Homo sapiens: one gene and its partners. The protein of the gene in region 4 purifies or fractionates together with the protein of the main gene of each other region. This does not show direct contact. Each region holds a gene or a part of one and is shown on either strand. Other genes may lie near its edges. The genes, in order: VDAC3, PDP1, GNB4, PLEKHG5 and PALS1.

Region 1 (4,893 bases), on a different chromosome or scaffold from region 4:
GATAAACAGAACATAACTTCCCAGTTGTCTCATCTGCCTGTAGAACTAGAGTTAGGGGACAGGGCATTTGTTAAGGAGAGGATTCATGTTGCAGGCAGTGAAAAAGACTGGTCAGGGTTGGCAGCATCTCATTACTGTTGGCAGGATTTCAGAAATGCTCCCTAAAACAGGACCAATCAGAATGTTTTTTCTTGACAGTTCATAGATTGTCAGTGACAGGTGCTGTCTGCTTTCCCCAGAAGGAGGTCCATTTCTAATTGCTTATTGTCATATGACTTAAAGGGCACTGAACTAGGGCAAAGGATGTATTTTATTTTATTTTATTTTTTTGAGACAGAGTCTCATTCATAGTAACTGTTTGATAGAAAGCACTCTTAAAGGTAGACAGGATAGAAAGGGGGAAAGAAGGATAAATTATAGCATTCTACTTTATTTTGAAAAATGGGTAGTACTTTCAAATATTGAAATTGTCTAAGCAGAAGTTTTGCAGTTTTGCACACAAAAGCATTAAAGTTTTCACAGCAGTGTGACTGTACTTAATGCCACTTCACTGTACACTTAAAACATTATTAAAATGGTAAAATGTATGTTACATGTATTTACCACAATAAAAAAAAACATTTTTAAAAGGAAGTAGTAAAGTGTTGACCCTATTAAAAAGGAGGAGGGCAGTATTTTGGGATTTTTAAGGACCTTGAAATTAACTGATAGTTTGAAACATATAGCAGAGAACTGATAATCTTTTTTTAGGTCATGAAAGTAAAATGTTTAAGATACAATATTTTTGGTCTTTTTAGTAAAGGCATTTGTTTTCAGTAAAGATACTTCTTTTTTAAAGGAGAGAATTTAGGATTACCATTTGGTAAGAGAGTATATGGAACAAGAGATATTAATAAGAGAAGTAGAGTAATGGAAAGATCTGAAACTGGTATTGAGCTGTCTCACTCCGTTGCCCAGGCTAGGGTGAAGTGGCATGATCTCGGCTCACTGCAACCTCTGCCTCCTGGGCTCAGGCTGGGACTACAGTCACGTGCCATCATGCCTGGCTAATTTTTTGTATTTTTTGTAGAGATGGGGTTTTGCCATGTTGCGCAGGCTGGTCTTGAGCTCCTGGACTCAAGGGATCCACCCGCCTTGGCCTCGTAACATGCTGGGATTACAGGCATGAGCCACTGCGCCTGGCAGAACTGGTTAAAATATTTAGGGACTGGAAAAGCAAGGGGAAAGGAGGAAAGAAGTTGCTCTAGAGTAGGGCTGTGGCAAGCAGTAAATGGTATTGTTTTTGATACATTGAACACTGCTTTCCAAAGTGAATATTTTCTATTTGATGAGCTAATTTTAAAGTAATTATTTTTTCTTGCTTACCAGGAATTTTCTACTTCTGGTCATGCTTACACTGATACAGGGAAAGCATCAGGCAACCTAGAAACCAAATATAAGGTCTGTAACTATGGACTTACCTTCACCCAGAAATGGAACACAGACAATACTCTAGGGACAGAAATCTCTTGGGAGAATAAGGTAAGAGAACGCATTAGAAGTTATTCATAGGTTCAATTTATCTTGTAGATTGAATGATGAACATACCCCAAATATAATCAAAAGAGATCTTACAACCTATCTAGTAGCCATATTTTTTCTCTGCATGTGGCCTTTTTTGATGTCTTATGTTTCTAGAAAATAAGGCTTTGTTTGTGAGTACTCTAATTACTATATTACATCTTTGTTCTGACTGGTTCTCTGTTACACAGCTAAGCTTCTCCTGGGTAGAACAAACTATTTGCGGAAATTTGGTTTAGTTTTGTAATTGTTGAAAAATTGGCTTGACAGAAAAATTTTTCTAAAATGTTCTCATGTTTTCAAGGAGAAAATCTATTAGATATAGTCAAGTGCCCACTATGTACAGGGCACTGTTTTTGATAGAGATACCATGTATAGATAATGTACATGCAAAACTGAGTAAAATGACTTAGCCTGCTTGTTAAATGTCAGGTTATCTCATTACTGCTCTTTCAAGAGAGTATCAAGATGATTTTGTTGTATGGGAATTCTGTTTGGTTTTGAACTGTATTTTATGTAACTTGCTAAAATAGGATTTGCCCCATTTTTTAGTGGGAGAACCATGATGAAGGCTGGGGTGAGGGGACAGGAGGATGGAGAGCTTACTTATTACATAATTTAATATTTTGCTTTCTTGAATGACTCCTTTTTTTTGTTAAAGAACTCAGGAAACTTTAGAATTGGTTTCTTGAGTTGGATAAATGATTGAAAATTACTAATTATTTATTTTAAATCTTTGTTTTTCAGTTGGCTGAAGGGTTGAAACTGACTCTTGATACCATATTTGTACCGAACACAGGGTAATTATTCAAATCCCATTTCCTGAAACGTTTTTGGAGCCTGAAAGGGTAGAGAGCTTTAGAATAAGGAGATATAGTGCAAAGTTCAGAGGCAGGAAGAACTCAGAAGGTTGCTATAAGGAATATTGGAGACCTTGTATAGGTAATACAGATAAAGGAAGATCCCTCCCCACCAAGGCAGGATGAACAATTTGAAAACTGAATAGATGAGCAAAAATGTATAAATGTATTTGAGAGAGACACATGGTAGAAAAAATTTAGGAGCTAGAAGAGTCTTGAGACCATAGATGAATCTTAAGCAATTCTGAAGATTGATGGACATGGTATTCTGCTGAGAAAGTTAATTCCTTTTGGCTGGGCGTGGTGGCTCACGCCTGTAATCCTAGCACTTTGGGAGGCCGAGATGGGCGGATCATGAGGTCCGGAGATGGAAACCATCCTGGCTAACACGGTGAAACCCCATCTCTACTAAAAAATACAAAAAATTAGCCAGGCATGGTGGTGGGCGCCTGTAGTCCCAGCTACTCAGGAGGCTGAGGCAGGAGAATGGCATGAACCCAGGAGGCGGAGCTTGCAGTGAGCCGAGATGCACTCCAGCCTGGGCAACAGAGCGAGACTCTGTCTCAAAAAAAAAAAAAAAAGTTAATTCCTTTTTTTTCCCCCTCACCCTCTCTTATGGTGCTGAAAAGTTAATTTCTTAAGAAGGTGATCTGGCTCTCAGATGCTATAATGATTAGTTCTGCTGCCTACTTGATTTCTTAGCCTCTGTAAATCCCCCAACTTCTTGACCTCAATTTCCTCGTGAAAAAAAGGGGGATTGTGTCATTTCCTATCTGCCTAATGTGGGTCCATGCTATCTGAAGGACGGAGGTTGCTAGATGAATGCAAAGTGACATTTGTCTCAGCCGTAACAACAGGTGTGTTCTTTTTGCCACACACTTCAGTTATCTTTAGGACAAATATTCTTTTCTTTTTTTTTTTTTTTTTTTTTTTTGAGATGGAGTCTTGCTGGAGTATAGTGGCACTATCTCAGCTCACTGCAAACTCTGCCTCCTGGGTTCAAGCAATTCTCCTGCCTCAGCCTCCCAAATAGCTGGGACTACAGGCATGCACCACCACGCCCAGCTAATTTTTGTATTTTTAGTAGAGACGGAGTTTTACCACGTTGGGCAGGATGGTCTCTGTCTTGACCTCGTGTTCCGCCTGGCTCGGCCTCCCAAAATGCTGGGCTTACAGGCATGAGCCACTGTGCCCGGCCAGGACAAATATTCCTACAAGAGGCTTGATTGGAATAGGGTTATTAAGAACTAATTTCATTTTTTCAGTATTGTCCTTCAAAAAAGCATGCTTCTCTCCATGATAGGTTAATAATGTATATTGGGGATTAATTCTTTGTGGCATTTGGCATTTGGAAACATTTAAAGAGATTTGGCTTCTTGTACGTCTGTATACATACACCTTCAGATTATTAATTTGGCACTGAAATATCTTATTCATTCTTTTTTTTTCTTTTGAGACGAGTCTCGCTCTGTCGCCAGGCTGGAGTACAGTGGCATGATCTTGGCTCACTGCAACCTCTGCCTCCCAGGTTCAAGTGATTCTCCTGCCTCAGCCTCCCAAGTAGCTGGGACTACAGGCGTGTGCCACCACGCCCAGCTAATTTTTGTATTTTTAGTAGAAACGGGGTTTCACCATGTTGGCCAGGATGGTCTCAATCTCCTGGCCTCGTCATCCGCCCACCTTGGCCTCCCAAAGTGCTGGGATTACAGGTGTGAGCCACCACACCCAGCCTCTTATTCATTCTTATACTTTTGTTCATGCTTTTATGAAATAAATCATGAAGTATCCTATCATTTGAACTTATAATGAGTAATAGATGATAGTAGTCTATACATGTCTAATCCTAACAAAATTATATTTGTAGAACTAGGTCATTTGAAATGTTTTTACTATATATGTGGCATGTACCAAAATAATATTTACATTGGGAGATGAGAGAGAGGATCTTACTCTAAAAATTCCTAGACAGTAGTAAGAACTCATGTTGTTTTCATCATTTGCTTTTGTTTGTTTGTTTATTGCAGAAAGAAGAGTGGGAAATTGAAGGCCTCCTATAAACGGGATTGTTTTAGTGTTGGCAGTAATGTTGATATAGATTTTTCTGGACCAACCATCTATGGCTGGGCTGTGTTGGCCTTCGAAGGGTGGCTTGCTGGCTATCAGATGAGTTTTGACACAGCCAAATCCAAACTGTCACAGAATAATTTCGCCCTGGGTTACAAGGCTGCGGACTTCCAGCTGCACACACATGTGTGAGTGTTTATAATTTATTCCTTAGTATCAGTGCAGTTGCCCAAAATATTGTAGCCATTAGCATGCTGAGAAGTGATGGTACTCAGATTTAGCATGCCTTGGTGAATATCCATCCTTGCGGTGCTATCCTCATAGCAAAACCTTGCCAGGAGGCTGGTGCACGTGGTGTGCAGGCTGTGCTGCTGGTGGTCACTGGCCCCTCAGCCTGCACCCCAAACTT
Region 2 (4,716 bases), on a different chromosome or scaffold from region 4:
CTACCCATTCTCCAGTGGCACAAGCACCCCAATGATTACTTTAGTAAGGAGGCATCCAAATTGTACTTTAACAGCTTGAGGACTTACTGGCAAGAGCTTATAGACCTCAACACTGGTGAGTCGACTGATATTGATGTTAAGGAGGCTCTAATTAATGCCTTCAAGAGGCTTGATAATGACATCTCCTTGGAGGCGCAAGTTGGTGATCCTAATTCTTTTCTCAACTACCTGGTGCTTCGAGTGGCATTTTCTGGAGCCACTGCTTGTGTGGCCCATGTGGATGGTGTTGACCTTCATGTGGCCAATACTGGCGATAGCAGAGCCATGCTGGGTGTGCAGGAAGAGGACGGCTCATGGTCAGCAGTCACGCTGTCTAATGACCACAATGCTCAAAATGAAAGAGAACTAGAACGGCTGAAATTGGAACATCCAAAGAGTGAGGCCAAGAGTGTCGTGAAACAGGATCGGCTGCTTGGCTTGCTGATGCCATTTAGGGCATTTGGAGATGTAAAGTTCAAATGGAGCATTGACCTTCAAAAGAGAGTGATAGAATCTGGCCCAGACCAGTTGAATGACAATGAATATACCAAGTTTATTCCTCCTAATTATCACACACCTCCTTATCTCACTGCTGAGCCAGAGGTAACTTACCACCGATTAAGGCCACAGGATAAGTTTCTGGTGTTGGCTACTGATGGGTTGTGGGAGACTATGCATAGGCAGGATGTGGTTAGGATTGTGGGTGAGTACCTAACTGGCATGCATCACCAACAGCCAATAGCTGTTGGTGGCTACAAGGTGACTCTGGGACAGATGCATGGCCTTTTAACAGAAAGGAGAACCAAAATGTCCTCGGTATTTGAGGATCAGAACGCAGCAACCCATCTCATTCGCCACGCTGTGGGCAACAACGAGTTTGGGACTGTTGATCATGAGCGCCTCTCTAAAATGCTTAGTCTTCCTGAAGAGCTTGCTCGAATGTACAGAGATGACATTACAATCATTGTAGTTCAGTTCAATTCTCATGTTGTAGGGGCGTATCAAAACCAAGAATAGTGAGTGGCTCTTTCACTGGCAATTCTCAAATGATATACATTTAAAGGGCAGATTTTTTAAAAAGATACTACTATAATAAACATTTCCAGTTGGTCATTCTAAGCATTTACCCTTTTGATACTCTAGCTAGTCAGGTACTCCAAATTGACTTTGCAGCAGGGTGGCAGGGTCAGGAGAGTCTGGTCCTGCCTAGCTCAGATTTCATGGCACCTGCACTTGAAGCAAGTCACTTCTTTATCACAGGTGTCTTGAAACATTAGCTTCTTTTACCAACCTGAGAAAATTAGGATGACCTGGCAAATAAGATCTTGAATAGGCCAAAAGCAAGTATCTTGCTGTGTGTAGTCTCTTGGTTAAAGTGAAGAAACAGTACTGTTCACACCTTTCTTCACTGAGATTCCAGTGTACATGAGAACATATATTTATTGCATGATTTTCTAGATACACAGTCTATGCATTATTCATATACATTTATTTTAGCCTAAAGTGGTTTTCAAATCCAGTTCTTCAAGCCATAAATGACCAAGATCCAAGCAATCTGAATTTGTTTTTGTGATTATTTGACTGGAATGCTTCTTAAGTGGAATAACTATACTCCGTTATCCACCCGATTTCCTAATGTAATTGAAAGATTTTCTATTTTGCCACACACTTGGAGACAATAAGGGTTTTTAGTTTTATCTACTCTTCTATTGAAGTTAAAGAAAGAAAAAAAGATTTTTTTATTTGTATTAATGAAAAGCTTTAGTTTAAAATAAGGAGATCCAGAATAAAAAGAAGAGACTGATCTCTTCAATTATTGTCATCTGTAGCCACCAGCACATCACTCTTATGTAATCCCCAAAGGCTTGGCATGCCGTAAGTGTGTGGTGGGTAGACTGCTGCCGGGGAATCGTACTTCTTATTTAGTAATGATAAGACTTTTCATTATTTTTGGAATTTTAAAGATGACATAAATAAGTTTAAATATCAATTTGGGGAGTAAGGTTTAATATTGCCATCGGGTATTGAGACAGGAGGAAGTTTCTGTTTTTCTCCATTTAGACATAGGTCAATTAAAATATTTGGGTTTAAAATGACTAAATGCTTTAAACATATTGTAGCTTAAGATATATGTGTTAAGATATATACATGAGAAACTTTAAAAGGTAACTACTGTGCATGCCTGATGCTTAATAGAATACTTAGTGGCATCAAATGTTTGCAGCAGTCTCCATAATTATATTCAGTCCCTTCTAATACTGTATCAATGTAAATGAAATAAATATATTCAAATTGGCTTTTTGATATGCATCAAGTGGCATTTTGTTCCTGTGTTTAATAGTGATCTGTATACAGCTGTGCACATATTGTCATCACTTATTCTAGCATCACTGTTAAGGCTGTGATTATGTTTGATATTCACCTGGATTTTAATACAAGCCAATATCAGCTTCCCATTGTGTAATAACTTGGGTGTTTAGGAGTCTTTTCACATTTTTTGGGGATATGAACTAGATGTTCAAGAACTCCTTCTGGACTGTGGATACTGAATCAGTGTACTATTGGCTGCAGAATTTGTTTCAATTGAAAATAGACTCAGGAAGATTGCTGCTCAGAATATCATATAATGTTTATTTTTTGAGGTGTTTTTGTTTTTATTTGTGTGTTTTTTTTTTTTTAAGTCAGCTTGGAACTTTTTTCCTGGGTAGTATTTGGGAGAGGGAAAGGCTGTACTATATATTTATTTCTAAATGTTTTGACTGGGCATTTTTCTTTTAATGAAATATGTGGACTGCTCTAGCAAACCCTATTTTCAGCTACTATTTGAATATTCTTGAACACCACCACTGAAGAGTTTCATATACACCAAATAATGTCTCATCTCTATAGTACAGGGAATATAAAATTGGTTTCCTGTGGTCATGATCAAGATAGTAGTATTATTACACAAGAAACTTGGTCTGCAGTCTGGAAGCTTGTCTGCTCTATAGAAATGAAAATGCAGCATGAAGTTGACATTGTGGAAATGAAAGTAATTGGGTATTAGAAATCTGAAAGTACTGTCATCTAAAAGCAATTGTGATTTTATTGTAATTGGTTGTCACTGTTGTACGGTGTCTAGAATTAAAGAATACATGTAAACTTTCATGGTATTTAGCCTTTCTTAAATTTTTTTAAAATTTAAACTTTCTAACCTATGTATTCAACTTCTGTATTTATATTTAATCAGTGGTTCATGTTATATAATACACCCTTAACTAGTTAAATGGAATGTTGGTATGGTACAGAGTACCATATTGCTAAGAAAACTGTCTTATAAAAGATGTATATGTGTGAAGACATGAAAGTTTAATGTACAGAATGGTTGGAGAAATGCCTATGGTGAATTAAAGCTTCATATCTGCTTTCTGAATGTCCTGTGTTGGTTTTTAATAACAAGATTGATTAGATGCTTCCTATGTGTGGTAGATTATATTTAATTTTAGGACCCAGTAGATACATAGTACTTCAAATTTGTAAAAATTGAGGTAAAATTTTTTTTCTTTTTTTTTTGAGATGGAGTCTCGCTCTGTCACCCAGGCTGGAGTGCAGTGGTGCGATCTCATCTTACTGCAGCCTCTGCCTCCTGGGTTCAAGCAGTTCTTCTGCCTCAGCCTCCCAAGTAGCTGGGACTACAGGTGCGGGCCACCACACCTGGCTAATTTTTGTATTTTTAGTAGAGATGGGGTTTCACCATGTTGGCCAGGCTGGTCTTCAACTCCTGACCTTGTGATCCACCCGCCTCGGCCTCCCAAAGTGTTTGGATTACAGGTGTGAGCCACCATGCCTGGCCAAAATTGAGGTATAATTTAAACAAAATGCACAGATTTAAAATTTGCGATGTAACATTTGGTAACACCCCAACAAAGATATAAAACTTTTTCTTCAGAAAATTCCCTATGCCCCTTTCCATTAATCCCTCCCCTCATAAGTATCATTCCACTTCTCTCACCATAATTTTGCTTCTAGAAATTTATATAAATCATACATGTACTTTTTTTTTTTTTCAGACAGTCTTGCTCTGTCGCCCTGGCTGGAGTGCATGATCTCGGCTCACTGCAGCCTCCGCATCCTGGGTTTGAGCAATCATCCTGCCTCAGCCTCCCAAGTAGATGGGACTACAAGCATGTGCCACCACACATGGCTAACTTTTGTATTTTTGGTGGAGACGGGATTTCACCATGTTAGCCAGACTGGTCTCAAACTCCTGACCTCAAGTGATCTGCCCACATCAGCCTCCCAAAGTACTGGGATCACAGGCGTAAGCCACTGCACCTGGCCCACATATGTACTTTTTATGTTTTACTTTTGCTCAATTTTTGGAGATTCACTTATGTTGTTGATTGTATTCATAGTCTGTTCCTTATTACTGGGTAGCATTCCAGTGTTTGAATGTATCACAATTTATCCATTCTCTATTGATGGATGTTGTCAGTCTCCCCCTGCCCCCCTTTAAAGATAATTTTTAGATTAATAATTCTCAGAAATGCTGTTTGGTTAAGGTGTAGCTTTAACTTTGCAAATAATGATTACAGGTAAGTTTTCTGTTAAAGCTTTGATGATAGGACCCTTAATGCCCTTAAAACAAATGGTGGGAATTTTTCATGGTGAAAAGTTCAGTGGGATTAAGGCGTGGCC
Region 3 (4,893 bases), on a different chromosome or scaffold from region 4:
AACCTGGGTGTCACAGTGAGTGTCTGTCTCAAAAAAAAAAAAAAAATCCAAACAAAACAAAAAATTTAGTGGCTAAAATTACTTAGGAGTTCATACTCTTTAGTTTAACAAAGCTTTCTGCAGTTTAAGCCCAGTCTGCTTTTCTCAACTTATTTTTCCATTTTCTCACAAACTGTACTACTGGAAGACCCACAATTCCTGAAACAACACTCAGTGTATTTTTCTACCTGTCATTGATCTTACATAGCTTTCTCCTAAAATACAGCCTTTTCTGTATCTTTAGCTCTCAACATTTTCTTTCAAGACTCATTCTCTTGTGATTAACTCATCTAGCCATTGTTCCTCCTTTACTCTCCTGTGGCATTTATTTTATACCCCTCTTCTGACAGTTTTTACTTACTTGATTTAATATAAATATGAGTAAATGTCTTATCTTCACCAGATGGTAGAGGCCTCAAGAGCAGGCGATGTATCCTGCGTTGTACCTCTAGTATTGTCATATTCTCAGGCTCTCAATTGGTGTTTTTAGATTGGATGAAATATGGTTGTTAGGCTTCTATGTACATTCTTGTCATGAAATTTAAGTAAGTCAGTAAGTACTAAACCAGTCAGCTAATATCCACCCAAATCTTGTATAACTAAGATGTTGTTACCACAAAAATGTTTAATCATAGCCAGACATTTTTAGTCAGTTGCTAAATTTTATTTTATGAAATATGTTCAAGATTTTTGGCATGCAGCATAAATTTTTTAAAAGTTGGAAGAACATTTTTTGGTATCAAGTTTTTAGTTGGAAAAATTGTATTTTTCTGAATTATTCTACATTAATGCAATGCATAACCAATTTAAGCTATTTTTTCCCTCTAAGTGTCAAATTATTTTTGTGTTTGTTCCTCTAGGCTGCTAGTCAGTGCTTCTCAAGATGGAAAATTAATTATTTGGGATAGCTATACAACAAATAAGGTAGAATTTCTTCATAATTCTTTTAAATAACCTTATATTTGTTTGGCTGTTCACCAGTTCTTTCCTTTATTCTTTTACCTCAAACTTAAATTGCTTTCTGAGATAAATTTATTGTTTATTTTAATCTAGTTCTTCTCTTTTGTCTTAGTGTTTACTTTTAATGTTTAACCCTTTTTCATTTCCAAAGATGACTCTATGTTTTACTAGAGGGCTCATATTTAATATATGAATATTAGAAGAGTACCATTTTACATATACTAATAAATGATTTTTAAAAATTCCCATTTCCTAATATGACAAAGACCTTGAGATTTTTATTTCTAGTTTTGGATAAGTTAGATGGCTAGTGGGAAGCTCTTCTTTGGCCCGCTCCAGGCACTGATTTGTGCTTCTGGACTTTTTAGAAGATACAGTAGATTGGAGGTAAATGACAACTTACGTAGATCTCTTGGTGGTAAAAGACTGTGGATGGTCCTAATACATCCACTGGAAGGAATCCCCAGTTTAAAATAGTTGAGTGGTGAAAAAGCTTCAGGAATACTTTGATAAGCTAATACCTTTATACTCTGTGTATACATATTAGTATTTTTATTAAACATTTGAAAATACCATTTTGTGAAATAATAATTTCAACCTGATTGAGATTTTAAAGCTAGCTAAGACAATTTTGTAATATAATAGTTTTTCTTTATTAATCATCATTAAGCACATTATCTTTCAACTATATTTTCATAAAACAAAAAAAATGTATTTTAAGCGTATTATTTTAGGTTAAGTGAGAGCATAGTAGTAATCCTGCCACGTGTTGATTCCCTGTATGGACTGTTTAGCCGTGGTATTCTCATACACCTTTTTTCCATCTGACCTTCAAATGATTGGTGTTAGGGTAACAAGGCAGCAGACAGTGTTGTTTCTAGAGCAATAAAAAACTATCACCATTGTTTGAATGAGATCCCAGAATAAGGGCCTATTAATAGAGGGATGCCAGTGTTGTCTTTTCATGGAAGACTCATGTAATCGACTCTGATACTTGCTAATTATTTCCCTAGTTCTTGTTCAGAGTTATGTTGGAGGAAATTTCTCTTCTGAGCACTATTACAAAAGTGAAAATTCTATTAAAACCTCTAACATTTTACACTTAATTTTTCAAATGGCAGTATATTAACCTTGGAACATCTTTATGTTCATTATTTTATTAAGAGAATTATTTCCAAAAAGAGCACTTTTTGACTCAAATGATTTGATAATACAAAACAATAGGCATTTTAATGTGCGTTAGTGTTGTATTTTTCATGGTTCACTTTCTCAAGCCATTACATTATTTTATTTGACTTATCTTTCTTAGATGTGTTTAATTTTTAATAATATTTACTTCATTGTAAATGGGTTTATGCAATAGATGACTGTTTTTGTAATCTGAGTGATGTGTGGTGTGTGCCCTACAGATGCATGCTATTCCTTTGAGGTCCTCCTGGGTGATGACCTGTGCTTATGCTCCCTCTGGTAATTATGTTGCCTGTGGAGGCTTGGACAACATCTGCTCTATATATAACTTAAAGACCAGAGAGGGAAATGTGAGAGTAAGCCGAGAGTTGCCAGGTCACACAGGTGAGCTTCCCTAAATATTCTTTCCCACCACACGATTCCTTGTGTGGAATGTGCTGATCAAGGACAAATGACAGATTGTGCTCGGCTGGCTAAAGGATGAGGATTAATCGGGTGGGAATGAAATTATTATGAACAAAGGAAACATTAACTTTTTATAGTCATACAAACGTTGATCATAATTTTATTTTTCAAAAATAGCTGTATTGTTTTTGTAAAAAATGATAAATTTACTGCACAAAATTCAAACTCATGAAAAATAAAGCAAATAAAATGTTCTCCATTTTCTGCTGCCATATAACAATTATGGGATTGTGGCATCTGTACTCAATTACATAATTGAAAGTATGCATTAAGGTACATTAGTGAAGTGCTTTTCACCATGATAGTGTATTGCTTTGTTTGCCAGTGTGCCCATCATAGTTCAATAGTGTAGTATTGGGTTAGTGGTGTTAATCAGGAATTTATTGCCACTTATCTGGTATCTATCCATCTGAATTTTTAGCCATACTATTTGACCATGCTTTTACAAAATCTCTAGAATGGTGTTTTTCTGACATTTCCATATTTTGAAACACTGATGAATGCTAAGCATTCAAATGCCACATCTTTCATAAAGTCTTCACTGTTGTTCTTCTGATTTCTTACAATATTTTATTTTTTTAATATTTTTTATTTGAAAAAAAAATTTTTTTAACTGCTCCTTGCAGAGAAGGGCTAACTCATAGGCGGTGCACCCAGAGGCATCCTCTCACAGTATTTTAAAACTATTTCTCCAGGGTGCTTAACACAGTCGGCCATAGATTATAGTTCTTCCCAAGGTAATTGTCTTAGGTGGCAGGGGCTGTGTCTTATTCAATTTGGTAACTTTCAGAGTACCCAGCACAATGTCATTAACATAGTTAATGCCTAAGAATGGTTTGTGGATAAAATTTGGTTTATAGACAATGTAGGATTTGAAGTAACTAAAAGTAGAACTATAGACTATATTGACAAACACTTGTTGCCCAAGTATTCTATTTTTAAAAATATATATTGCTATTTCACATGGTAACTGAGTTATTCAATCAGTGATAACCTAAAATTTGCTACTCTTTATGCTGTAGGGTACTTGTCCTGCTGTCGTTTTTTAGATGACAGCCAAATTGTTACAAGTTCAGGAGATACAACTTGGTAAGTTTATTCCAGAAGCACACTGATTATGGGTTTGAGGGTGGTAGCAGGAACTGACATAAGAAGAAGTAATTGTCATGAAATTTTGTTTTTAATTACAGTGCTTTATGGGACATCGAAACTGCCCAGCAGACCACCACATTCACTGGGCATTCTGGAGATGTGATGAGTCTTTCTTTGAGTCCTGACATGAGGACTTTTGTTTCTGGTGCTTGTGATGCCTCTTCCAAATTATGGGATATTCGAGATGGAATGTGTAGACAGTCTTTCACGGGACATGTCTCAGATATCAATGCTGTCAGTGTAAGTGAATAGCATTTCTAGAGAAAATTTATTATGCATTTAAAGTGTTGAGCTCTATGGCATGATTTTAACAACAAATTGCCTTCAAGGATTCTTACAAGTAATGTGCTCTTATAACTTTGAATCTCCAAGTCATAAGGGTTTTTGATTTTTTAAAAAAGAAAGCTTCAATTCATAGTCCTAGATCTTTTTTGTTATTGTTGGATTTTTTTTTGTTGTTATTTTTTTGTTTTTTTGAGACAGTCTTGCTCTGTCGTCCAGGCTGGAGTGCAGCGGTGCAGTCACGGCTCACTGCAGCCTCGACCTCCTGGGCTCAAGCGATCCTCCCACCTCAGTCTCCTGGTAGCTAGGATTACAGGTACACACCACCATGCATGGCCAATTTTGTATTTTTTATAGAGATGGGGTTTTGCCATGTTGTCCAGGCTGGTCTCGAACTCCTGAGCTGAAGCAATCTTCCTGCCTCGGCCTCCCAAAGTGTTGGGATTACAGGCATGAGCCACTGTTCCTGGCAACCTAGGTTTTTAATTGCTGGTGAATATCACTTTTTTTTTTTTTTTCCAAAGTGGAGGGATTATCATGAGTAAACAAGCAGATCGTGGATGTTCTACCAGTGAATTCAGATGAGAAAAAAGTCTCGTCTTTCTGGGACCAAAGTGAACAACCCAAAGAGAGAACAATAAGGATGAAAAAAGCAGCTGATTAGTGTGGAGTATAGCTTTTGAAGTCAGTGCAACCCGGGACCTAATCTTAGTTCTGCTGCCATTAAGCACCTGTGTGAAACTAGTCATGCTGCTTCATCTTCGTGAACCTCAGATTCTTCAGTTTTTAAAATAGGGATAATACCAC
Region 4 (4,893 bases):
AGCAGATTTGATACCCTGATTCGCTCCTTACGGAAGAGTCAGTATTCAACAAATACGGACTGAGCCCTATGACGCACCCCACCCTGGATCCCTTGAAAGCCTCGAGATCAGTTTCCCTGCTGTGATGGTCTGGGTGGCCACTACCATCACTGAGGCTGCTCGACTCCTCCAGCTGCTGCCAGGGGCTGGTGCCCAGGCCCGGCTGACCTCATCTGCTTCCCTCCTCTCAGCAGTCCCCAGGCTCAGGGGCACTGGGGGCACAGTGAGGCTCAGCCCCAGGATCTGAACCAGGTGGTTTCCGACTTCGTCGAGCAGATCTGGTTGACGATGAAGTTCTGGAAGCCCCCCGGGAGAACCATGAGCCCAACTGAGAAGCTGGGGTGGGCAGAGCTCCCTGGTGCAGTTTCTGCTCCCCGTTCTGCCTCACGTCCCACCCCCAAACCCCAGAGTCTCCCCAGCTCCCTCCAGAGGCAGGACTCCCCCAGCACTAGGGCGGAATGGCCCCTTCTTGAAGCCAGACTCCAGCCCCTTCTCTCAGACCCAACTGCCCCTCCCTCACCTGCCTGCCTGCCCACCATGTCCTGCCTCTGTCCTGCAGGAGGGACACCAGGGTCCGGGGGGGAATGTTCCCAGGTCTCAACCCAAGGGAGGAGAGAGCCCACCCATGGGAACAGCCAGCTCCCACCCCCTCTAACGCCAGGCAGCCAAAATAACAGAGGGGGGCCCTTTGGGGAATACACGCATGTGAGGATGGGGACAGAGAACCAGGCGTCCACCCTCACACAAGGGCTGGGGCCAGAGGCACAAGGAGAAACAGAGGCCTCTGGGGTAGGAGGAGGCTGTGGGCAGGGCCAGGGCAGAGGAAGGAAAGGAGAGGGGCGGCCCAGCATAGGGCCCGGGACCCACAGGTGTGTCCGGAGCTGGCCCCAGACACAAAGCGCCAAGAATTGGCGGGGACATCTCAGCCGGCGGGGACACACCCCGGAGTCCGAGGTCCCCGTCACCAGGGTGCAGCTGCCCAGGTAGGGGGCTCGGCCGCCATGGGCCGCATCCTTCCCCTGGGGGCCGCGGGGCCCATAGTCACGGGCACCCCCTCCCTGGCCTCCCGCACAGGACTGGGCGGCTGCAGGCGAGAACTGGGCACCCAGCCCCGTTCCCGCCCCGTCCCGGCCCCGTACCTGGCTATCACCGTCGCGGGCACGACCCCCGGCCCAGGAGGGCTCCGAGTCCCGGAGGGGCAGCCCCGGGCCCGGCCTGGAGGCTGCTAGGCGTCCGGAGACACCGGGTCCTGTCCCCATGGCGGCCGGAGGAAGCCGCGGTCTGCGCCGCCCGCCGGACAAAGCGCGGAGCCCCGCTTCCTGCCATTGTGCGGCCGCGCCCGCCCCCGCCGAGCGCGGGGACCCCGGGGAGGGCCGGGCCCGGAACAGCCCCCAGCCCCCCAGGAAGGCGGACACCTCCCTCCCGCCCGGGCCCTCGCCACCCAGCCCCGGGGATCCCCGCCTCCCCGCCCGGGAACCCCTACACCCCCGCCTCCGCCTGCCCGGGCGACCCCCCGCCTCCCCGCCTCTGCCCAGACCCGGGGACTCCACACCCCTACCTCTGCCCGGCCGGGGGACCCCCACAGCCCCGCCTCCGCCCAGTCCCCGGGACCCCCACCTTCCCACCTCTGCCTGGCCCGGGGTACCCCCACCTCTGCGCCTCTGCGCGGCCCCGGGCCCCTCTCTTCTCTGACTCCCTCCTCAACACCAATGCCGGGCTCAGAGGGCTCCTCAGAACTTGCTCTTTCTCCTGGGGAGCTCCTTGAATGCTGGAGGCAGGGGGCGCTGGTGACACCCCCCCCCACCTTGGAGACTGTGGAGCCCCTCCCCTGGGTGACTCGATCCCCGCCCAGCCCTGGGGGTGCCCACTCTGCTGTGGTCCCCACCTCACCCTCAGCGCCAACACGCACGGTCCCTCCCAGCCAGAAGGGTACCTTCCCTCCTCCCTTCCTCCTGGAGACCCCCACCCCCGCCTCGGAGCCTCAGCCCAGGGGACCCCTTCTTACTCCCAGCAAGGGAGCTCTTAGAATACAGGCACCAGAAGGGGGAGGCCAGGATGGGGCACACTCCCCTCAGGGTCCTTGGTCCGGCTCTCCATCTAGCCCCAGGGACACCCCTCTCTGCTCCAACACCAGCTTTGAGCCCCAGTCACACACCCACCCCAACCTCACAACCAGCTCTCATCTCAGCCCCTCCCATCAACCTGGAGACCCCTGCCCGAGAGCCTGAGCCCCAGGGACACCCCCTCACACCGACTGCTCACTGCCCAGGTACGGCAGAGGCCGAGAGCCAAAGGCCGGTGGCCTCTGGAAAGGGCCGTGGGCAGAAGGCGGGCTGCTCTGAGAGGCTATCCTTGGCAGCCCCCAGGAGCTGGGTGAGGTGGAGGCATCAGGAAACCCTGGCGACCCACATGGCACAGCAGCCCAGGTCCCTGCAGTTCTAGGCCAGGTCCCCACCGCCAGGGGGCACTCAGCAAAGCCTGAGAGGACGCAAACGCCCAGACTCTGGTGCTGGAGTCACCACTACACGGCTGTCAAAGCGCTTTTACACTGATTCCCAGGAAGGCAGGGCAGGCACCATTAGCCCCATTCACGGCGTGGGGGATAAAGTGACATAAAGAGACAAAAGTCTACAGGCAAGACTGAAACTCAGACTGTGGCTCTGGGATTCTGGGATGGCCTCCTTGGGACACTCCTCAGAACCCATGGGGGTGAGGTGGCCATGCTGTCTGTCATCAGCCCACCCACCCCTAATTGCTCCTCCTCCACCTGGTTCCATGGGGAAAGAGGGTGGGAAGGGGGCCAGGGTCCGTGAGATGGCTTTGGGAGGGCAGCAGCGTTTTATTAGAGGCTGGGAGACTTCCAGGGCTGTCTCCACTCCCAAAGCCCAGGTCACCCACTGTCTACACCACAGGCAGAGTTGTGTTTTTGTTTTTTGTTTGTTTGTTTTTGAGACGGAATCTTGCTCTGTCACTCACGTTGGAGTGCAGTGGCATGATCCCAGCTCACTACGACCTCCACCTCCCAGGTTCAAGTGATTCTTCTGCCTCAGCCTCCCCAGTAGCTGGGATTACAGGCGCCCGCCACTACACCCAGCTACTTTTTGTATTTTAGTAGAGATGGGGTTTCGCCATGTTGACCAGGCTGGTCACTAACTCCTGATCTCAAGTGATCCACCCCCACCTTGGCCTCCCAAAGTGCTGAGATTACAGGCATGAGCCACCACACCCGGCCAACAGGCAGAGTTTTGAAAACTAAAACTTCCCATCTTGCTTATAGTGAAATCCCACCATGGCCGGGCTCCCGCCTCCCTCCCAGCTGGTCCGCACAGGGTCCACCTGCCGGTCTTCCTTCTCTCCCTACAGCTCGCCAAGCTCAGGGCCTTCTCCTCTGTATTTTCTGTCTGGAATTCCACGCACCCTATCTTGAAACAGCTGACACCGGGCCCCAACTTAAATGTTACCTCTAAGACGTCCTTTTCCCTCATCTTAAAATAAACCACCCTTACCCTCCCACTCTCAATTCCTTTAAGTTAAATTATTTCCTTCTTAGTGTTTATTACTACCTGTAATTCATTTCTTTGTTCACTTTTTTATCATCATTCTTCCCTACCAGACTGTCCTCTCCAGAAGCCAGCGCCTTGGCCGTCTGCATCTCACTGTGTCCTCGGCACTTAGAACAGTCCTGGTGCACAGTAGGTGCGCTTGGTGGGGATGAGATCAGTGAACAGATGAAGGCAGAAGGGCCTTCATGCCACAGAAGGACATGGGGACAGGAAAGGGCTCGGCCAGGATATCCCTTCCTGTGGCCGACAGTCAACAGAGCCTTCCCCACTGCCAGACCGAAGGTCTCTTCCTCCTCCTAGTATCCATGACCTTGGGCCTGCTGGCCCTGGGCAGGTGAGTTCCTACTTCAAATCGGGTGGTCTTGCCCCAGACCTCCACCCCCATACTGTCCTGTAGGCAGATAACTGCATTTCACTGAGCATTCCATGTGCCACCCCATCGTGGGAGTTCCAGGCAGTGAATCCCATTCGCTCTTCTCAAAGACTCTTAGGAGGAGATACTGTTACAATCCCCATTTAACAGATAGAGAAACTAAGGCCTGTGTCAACTGACTTGCCCCAAAGTCACCAGCTGCTGCTACGTAGGGAAATGGGTGCCTCAGGCACAGGGCAGGCGTGGGGCCTGAAGACAGCTGAATGTTGGTTTGGGCAACAGGGCCCTGGAGATTGCCTTCCTGAAGACACGGCAGATCCCAAAGCCAGCTTGTGGGGAGCCCACCGGTGTGGGGTAACCAGGTTGCATCAAGTGGAGACCACCAGGGCTGGGTCAGGGCGGATCACCAGAGGTCACCTGAGTGCCTGGGCCCTGGCCATCCCTGAGTGAGGCTGCTGCCTGGGTACTCAGCAAGGGTGGGGGACTGTTCCTTAGGGGCAAGAGTGCAGAGCAGAAAGGAGCCCCCAGCCCCTGTACCAGGGCAGTGGGGTGGGCCTGGGCAGGCTCCTGCATTCCCACCTCCTCTCCACAGCAGGGAGCTGAAACAGCTCAGGGGCAGGCCCAAGAAGTCCTGGCCCCCAACTCCCTGGGGAGGGAGCCCCTCCCCAGCCCAGCCCCAGCTCCAGGCTTGTGAGTCAGGGCCGGCTTGTTGAAACTGATACCCAGAAACCAGATGCGGAGGCTGATGAATAATGGAGTCTCCAAGGCAGGACCCCCGCACCCGGCTGTTCTCCCTCAGTATCACCTCCCCCAGCCCCAGAAAAGCAGATGGGAAACCAGGGATCCCCCAGGCATCCCTGCCCCACAACGAGCTGGGGCCCCAGCCTGGTCTGGGTGGGAGAGGGACTTCCCTGTCCA
Region 5 (4,893 bases), on a different chromosome or scaffold from region 4:
ACAACATGCAGGTTTGTTACGTATGTATACATGTGCCATGTTGGTGTGCTGCACCCGTTAACTCGTCATTTACATTAGGTATATCTCCTAATGCTATCCCTCCCCTCTCCCCCCACCCCACAACAGGCCCCAGTGTGTGATGTTCCCCACCCTGTGTCCTGGTGTTCTCATTGTTCAGTTCCCACTTATGAGTGAGAACATGCAGTGTTTGGTTTTCTGTCCTTGTGATAGTTTTCTCAGAATGATGGTTTCCAGCTTCATCCATGTCCCTACAAAAGACATGAACTCATCCTTTTTTTGGCTGCATAGTATTCCATGGTGTATATGTGCCACATTTTCTTAATCCAGTCTATCATTGATTTGGGTTGGTTCCAAGTCTTTGCTATCGTAAATAGTGCTGCAGTCAATGTACGTGTGCATGTGTCTTTATAGCAGCATGATTTATAATCCTTTGGGTATATACCCAGTAATGGGATGGCTGGGTCAAATGGTATTTCTAGTTCTAGATCCTTGAGGAATCACCACACTGTCTTCCACAATGGTTGAACTAGTTTACGGTCCCACCAACAGTGTAAAAGTGTTCCTATTTCTCCACATCCTCTCCAGCACCTGTTGTTTCCGACTTTTTAATGATCGCCATTCTAACTGGTGTGAGATGGTATCTCATTGTGGTTTTGATTTGCATTTCTCTGATGGCCAGTGATGATGAGCATTTTTTCATGTGTCTGTTGGCTGCATGAATGTCTTCTTTTGAGAAGTGTCTGTTCATATCCTTTGCCCACTTTTTGATGGGATTGTTTGATTTTTTCTTGGAAATTTGTTTAAGTTCTTTGTAGATTCTGGATATTAGCCCTTTGTCAGATGGGTAGATGGTAAAAATTTTCTCCCATTCTGTAGGTTGCCTATTCACTCTGATGGTAGTTTCTTTTGCTGTGCAGAAGCTCTTTAATTAGATCCCATTTGTCAATTTTGAGTTTTGTTGCCATTGCTTTTGGTGTTTTAGTCATGAAGTCCTTGCCCATGCCTATGTCCTGAATGGTATTGCCTAGGTTTTCTTCTAGGGTTTTTCTGGTTTTAGGTCTAACATTTAAGTCTTTAATCCATCTTGAATTAACTTTTGTATAAGGTGTAAGGAAGGGATCCAGTTTCAGCTTTCTACATATGGCTAGCCAGTTTTCCCAGCACCATTTATTAAATAGGGCATCCTTTCCCCATTTCTTCTTTTTGTCAGGTTTGTCAAAGATCAGATGGTTGTAGATGTGTGGTATTATTTCTGAGGGCTCTGTTCTGTTCCATTGGTCTGTATCTCTGTTTTGGTACCAGTAGCATGCTGTTTTGGTTACTGTAGCCTTGTAGTATAGTTTGAAGTTGGATAGGGTGATGCCTTCAGCTTTATTCTTTTGGCTTAGGGTTGTCTTGGCAATGCAGGCTCTTTTTTGGTTCCATATGAACTTTAAAGTAGTTTTTTCCAATTCTGTGAAGAAAGTCATTGGTAGCTTGATGGGGATGGCATTGAATCTATAAATTACCTTGGGCAGTATGGCCATTTTCACAATATTGATTCTTCCCATCCATGAGCATGGAATGTTCTTCCATTTGTTTGGTCCTCTTTTACTTGGTTGAGCAGTGGTTTGTAGTTCTCCTTGAAGAGGTCCTTCACATCCCTTGTAAGTTGGATTCCTAGGTATTTTATTCTCTTTGTAGCAATTGTGAATGGGAGTTCACTCATGATTTGGCTCTCTCTTTGTCTGTTATTGATGTATAGGAATGCTTGTGATTTCTGCACATTGATTTTGTATCCTGAGACTTTGCTGAAGTTGCTTATCAGCTTAAGGAGATTTTGGGCTGAGACGATGGAGTTTTCTACATGTACAATCATGTCATCTGCAAACAGGGATAATTCGACTTCCTCTTTTCCTAATTGAATACCCTTTATTTCTTTCTCCTGCCTGATTGCCCTGGCCAGAACTTCCAACACTGTGTTGAATAGGAGTGGTGAGAGAGGGCATCCCTGTCTTGCGCCAGTTTTCAAAGGGAATGCTTCCAGTTTTTGTCCATTCAGTATGATATTGGCTGTGGGTTTGTCATAAATAGCTCTTATTATTTTGAGATACGGCGGACGCATCACTTGAGGCCAGGAGTTCGAGACCAGCCTGGGCAACATAGTGAAATCCTGTCTCTACTAAAAATACAAAAAACATTAGCCAGGCATGGTGGTGCACGCCTGTGGTACTGGCTACTGAAGAGGCCGAGTTCGTGCTACTGCACTCCAGCCTGGGCAACACAGCAAGACTTGGTCTCAAAAATAAATAAATAAATAAATAAATAAATAAATAAATAAATAAATAGATATAGAAACTAAGAAGATGATGGTGTTACTCACTGGATGCAAAATGTAACCAACCAGTTATGTAATTGTACTCTGAATCTGTTCTTCTAGTATTGTGAAAGAATGGTATTGGCATAAAGATGTGATTTTTTTCTTGTATGTATTGTTAAAGTCACAGAAAATCATCTATATTGTGGTAAGAGAGAATATATGCCAGACAAATGCTCTGCTGTCTGTCAGAAAGAGGAATAAAGACACAATCTGGAACCAGGAAATAAATAATAATAATAATAATTATTATTATTATTATCAAAAGGAATAATCAGACACTTTAGCAAAAGAAATAAGTTGGAGGGCATTTGTCTTTATTGTCTCTTTTCTATTTAATTCATTTCTTTTTATGCTTTCTTTGACTATAATTTGCACTTGCTTTAGTTTCTCAAGATGAATGCTTAATTTTTAAACTCTTCTTTTCAAATGTAGGCATTTGAAATTATAAATTTCCCTCGAAACAGTTCTTTAGTTGCATCCCGTAAGTTTTGGCATTGTATTTTTGTTACCATTTTGTTAGAAGTATTTTCTAATTTCCCTTCATTTTTTTTTTTTTTTTTTTTGAGATGGGGTTTCGCTCTTGTTGCCCAGGCTGGAGTGCAGTGGCACTATCTCTGCTCACTGCAACCTCTGCCTCCCGGGTTCAAGCAATTCTCTTGCCTCAGCCTCCCGAGTAGCTGGGATTATAGGCATGCACCACCACGCCCAGCTAATTTTGTATTTTTAGTAGAGATGGGGTTTCTCCATGTTGGTCAGGCTGGTCCCAAACTCCCGACCTCAGGTGATCCACCTGCCTCAGCCTTCCAAAGTGCTGGGATTATGGGCCTGAGCCCCCGGCACCCCGCTTCCTTGTTTTTCTCTTTAACACATGAGTTATTTAGAAGTATGTTATATAGTTTCCACCTATTTGGAGATGTGAAAAAGATTTTAACTGATTTATAATTCCAGGTGGTCAGACCCTGAAAGATGTCAGTCTTTTCAAATTTGTTGAGCCTTATTTTATGGCCCAACATCTGTTCTTTCTTGGTGAATGTTCTGTGCACACCTGTTAGGATGTGTATTCCACAGTTTTTGGTGTAGAGGATGGTGTATCTGATTGTATTTATTCTACTTAAGTTTTTTTCTCCTGTGATATTTCTTTCTTTTTTTTGAGACAGAGTCTCACTCTGTCGCCCAGGCTGGAGTGCAGTGGCACAATCTTGGTTCACTGCAACCTCTGCTTCCTGGGTTTAAGTGATTCTCATGCCTCAGCCTCCCAAGTAGCTGGGATTACAGATGTGCACCATCACGCCTGGCTATTTTTTGTATTTTTAATAGAGACGGGGTTTTGCCCTGTTGGCCAGGCTGGTCTCAAGCTCCCGGCCCCATGTGATCCACCTACCTTGGCCTCCCAAAGTGCTGAGATTACAGGCGGGGGAGCCCCTGCGCTGGTATTGGTATTTCTAATAGTGCTTTATTACTCAATGATAGAAGTGCTGAAGTAAAACAGATTTTCAATTTTAACTCTATAAAATTGTGCTAAGAAAATGATGGCGTTACAAAATGTAACCAACCGGTTATCTAGTTGCATTCTGAATCTCTGAATCTGTTCTGCTAGTATGAAGGCTTGAGAGTGGCTATCTAGCAGTATGAACTTATTGTCAGTTTTGCCTAGTTCAGCTAAAAATTTTGAGCTAAAACATTTTGTTTCATCTTAGTCGTGGATTGTAATTTGAAAGAGAACTTCAGACATGAAGTACTAAATAAGTGATATAAGCCATTTTGGCACAAAATGGAATAACAATGCCTTAAATTTGATAAAAACTAGGTGGATTCGGGCTTTATCATTTTCATTTCAACTCCAATACCACAAAGTTTCAGTTCTCTGTGGAGTCCTAGAATGTTCTTCCAATAATCTTGAGCTTACGGTAGACATAAGTTTTAGCAAAAATGTCAGTGTGTTCAGTTACAGTGGTGAAGTAGATTCCCTGCTGGGAACAAAGGATTCTGTGTGCCATATTCAGATGTACAACATTCCAGAATGAGAGTCATGCAAGAAACTGCCTCAGGACAAGCCAGAGTTGTCATATTTTTAATATGTTTTCTTACTGTTACAGAAGTTCAAACAGTTGAATGATATAAATTGTTTTGTACTATGGGTCCAATATAGTATTGATGTGTGACTTTTATATCTGAGACATTTTGTCTTGAGTTTAAGTTAGTTGTCTTCATTGGCAGGGGTGATTTGAGGTGAGTTTCACTTTCTTGAACCCATGTGCCTGATAATTAGAGGGTTCAGGATAAGTTTTGCACATAGCCTTGCTGCCTGCTTATCTTTGTAAAATGGCCCTTTCCTTCAGTCAGTATTTTAAAGTAGGCTACTCTATATAGTTTCCCAAACTCTGGTAGGATACTTTTAACTCTCTGCAGCAGATAGTATAGGGCAAGGGCTCTTTACTAGAGCCAAAAGTAAATGGCATTTTAGGTCCTTGCTCCAACCAGAAAGGTTCACTCCATATTACAGATGTTACTAT

What was found.
Region 1: the proteins of PLEKHG5 (region 4) and VDAC3 fractionate together in Homo sapiens (co-fractionation; one large-scale study listed by BioGRID). This does not show direct contact.
Region 2: the proteins of PLEKHG5 (region 4) and PDP1 purify together in Homo sapiens (affinity purification with mass spectrometry; 2 studies listed by BioGRID and IntAct, with this or other methods). This does not show direct contact.
Region 3: the proteins of PLEKHG5 (region 4) and GNB4 purify together in Homo sapiens (affinity purification with mass spectrometry; one large-scale study listed by BioGRID and IntAct). This does not show direct contact.
Region 5: the proteins of PLEKHG5 (region 4) and PALS1 purify together in Homo sapiens (co-immunoprecipitation; one large-scale study listed by IntAct). This does not show direct contact.

The regions. Positions count from the first base shown.
Region 1 is NC_000008.11:42,397,344-42,402,236, forward strand, and holds part of VDAC3 (non-selective voltage-gated ion channel VDAC3), read left to right. Parts: intron 1-1,368; coding exon 1,369-1,521; intron 1,522-2,307; coding exon 2,308-2,360; intron 2,361-4,444; coding exon 4,445-4,672; intron 4,673-4,893. UniProt on the Homo sapiens protein: Non-selective voltage-gated ion channel that mediates the transport of anions and cations through the mitochondrion outer membrane and plasma membrane.
Region 2 is NC_000008.11:93,922,618-93,927,333, forward strand, and holds the end of PDP1 (pyruvate dehyrogenase phosphatase catalytic subunit 1), read left to right. Parts: coding exon 1-1,056; 3' UTR 1,057-3,451; downstream 3,452-4,716. UniProt on the Homo sapiens protein: Mitochondrial enzyme that catalyzes the dephosphorylation and concomitant reactivation of the alpha subunit of the E1 component of the pyruvate dehydrogenase complex (PDC), thereby stimulating the conversion of pyruvate into acetyl-CoA.
Region 3 is NC_000003.12:179,412,563-179,417,455, reverse strand, and holds part of GNB4 (guanine nucleotide-binding protein subunit beta-4), read left to right. Parts: intron 1-899; coding exon 900-963; intron 964-2,408; coding exon 2,409-2,571; intron 2,572-3,674; coding exon 3,675-3,741; intron 3,742-3,842; coding exon 3,843-4,044; intron 4,045-4,893. UniProt on the Homo sapiens protein: Guanine nucleotide-binding proteins (G proteins) are involved as a modulator or transducer in various transmembrane signaling systems.
Region 4 is NC_000001.11:6,484,146-6,489,038, forward strand, and holds part of PLEKHG5 (pleckstrin homology domain-containing family G member 5), read right to left. Parts: intron 1,807-4,893; exon of another isoform or gene 1,691-1,806; intron 1,323-1,690; exon of another isoform or gene 1,299-1,322; coding exon of another isoform or gene 1,179-1,298; intron 1-1,178. UniProt on the Homo sapiens protein: Functions as a guanine exchange factor (GEF) for RAB26 and thus regulates autophagy of synaptic vesicles in axon terminal of motoneurons. Involved in the control of neuronal cell differentiation.
Region 5 is NC_000014.9:67,327,533-67,332,425, forward strand, and holds part of PALS1 (protein PALS1), read left to right. Parts: intron 1-4,893. UniProt on the Homo sapiens protein: Plays a role in tight junction biogenesis and in the establishment of cell polarity in epithelial cells.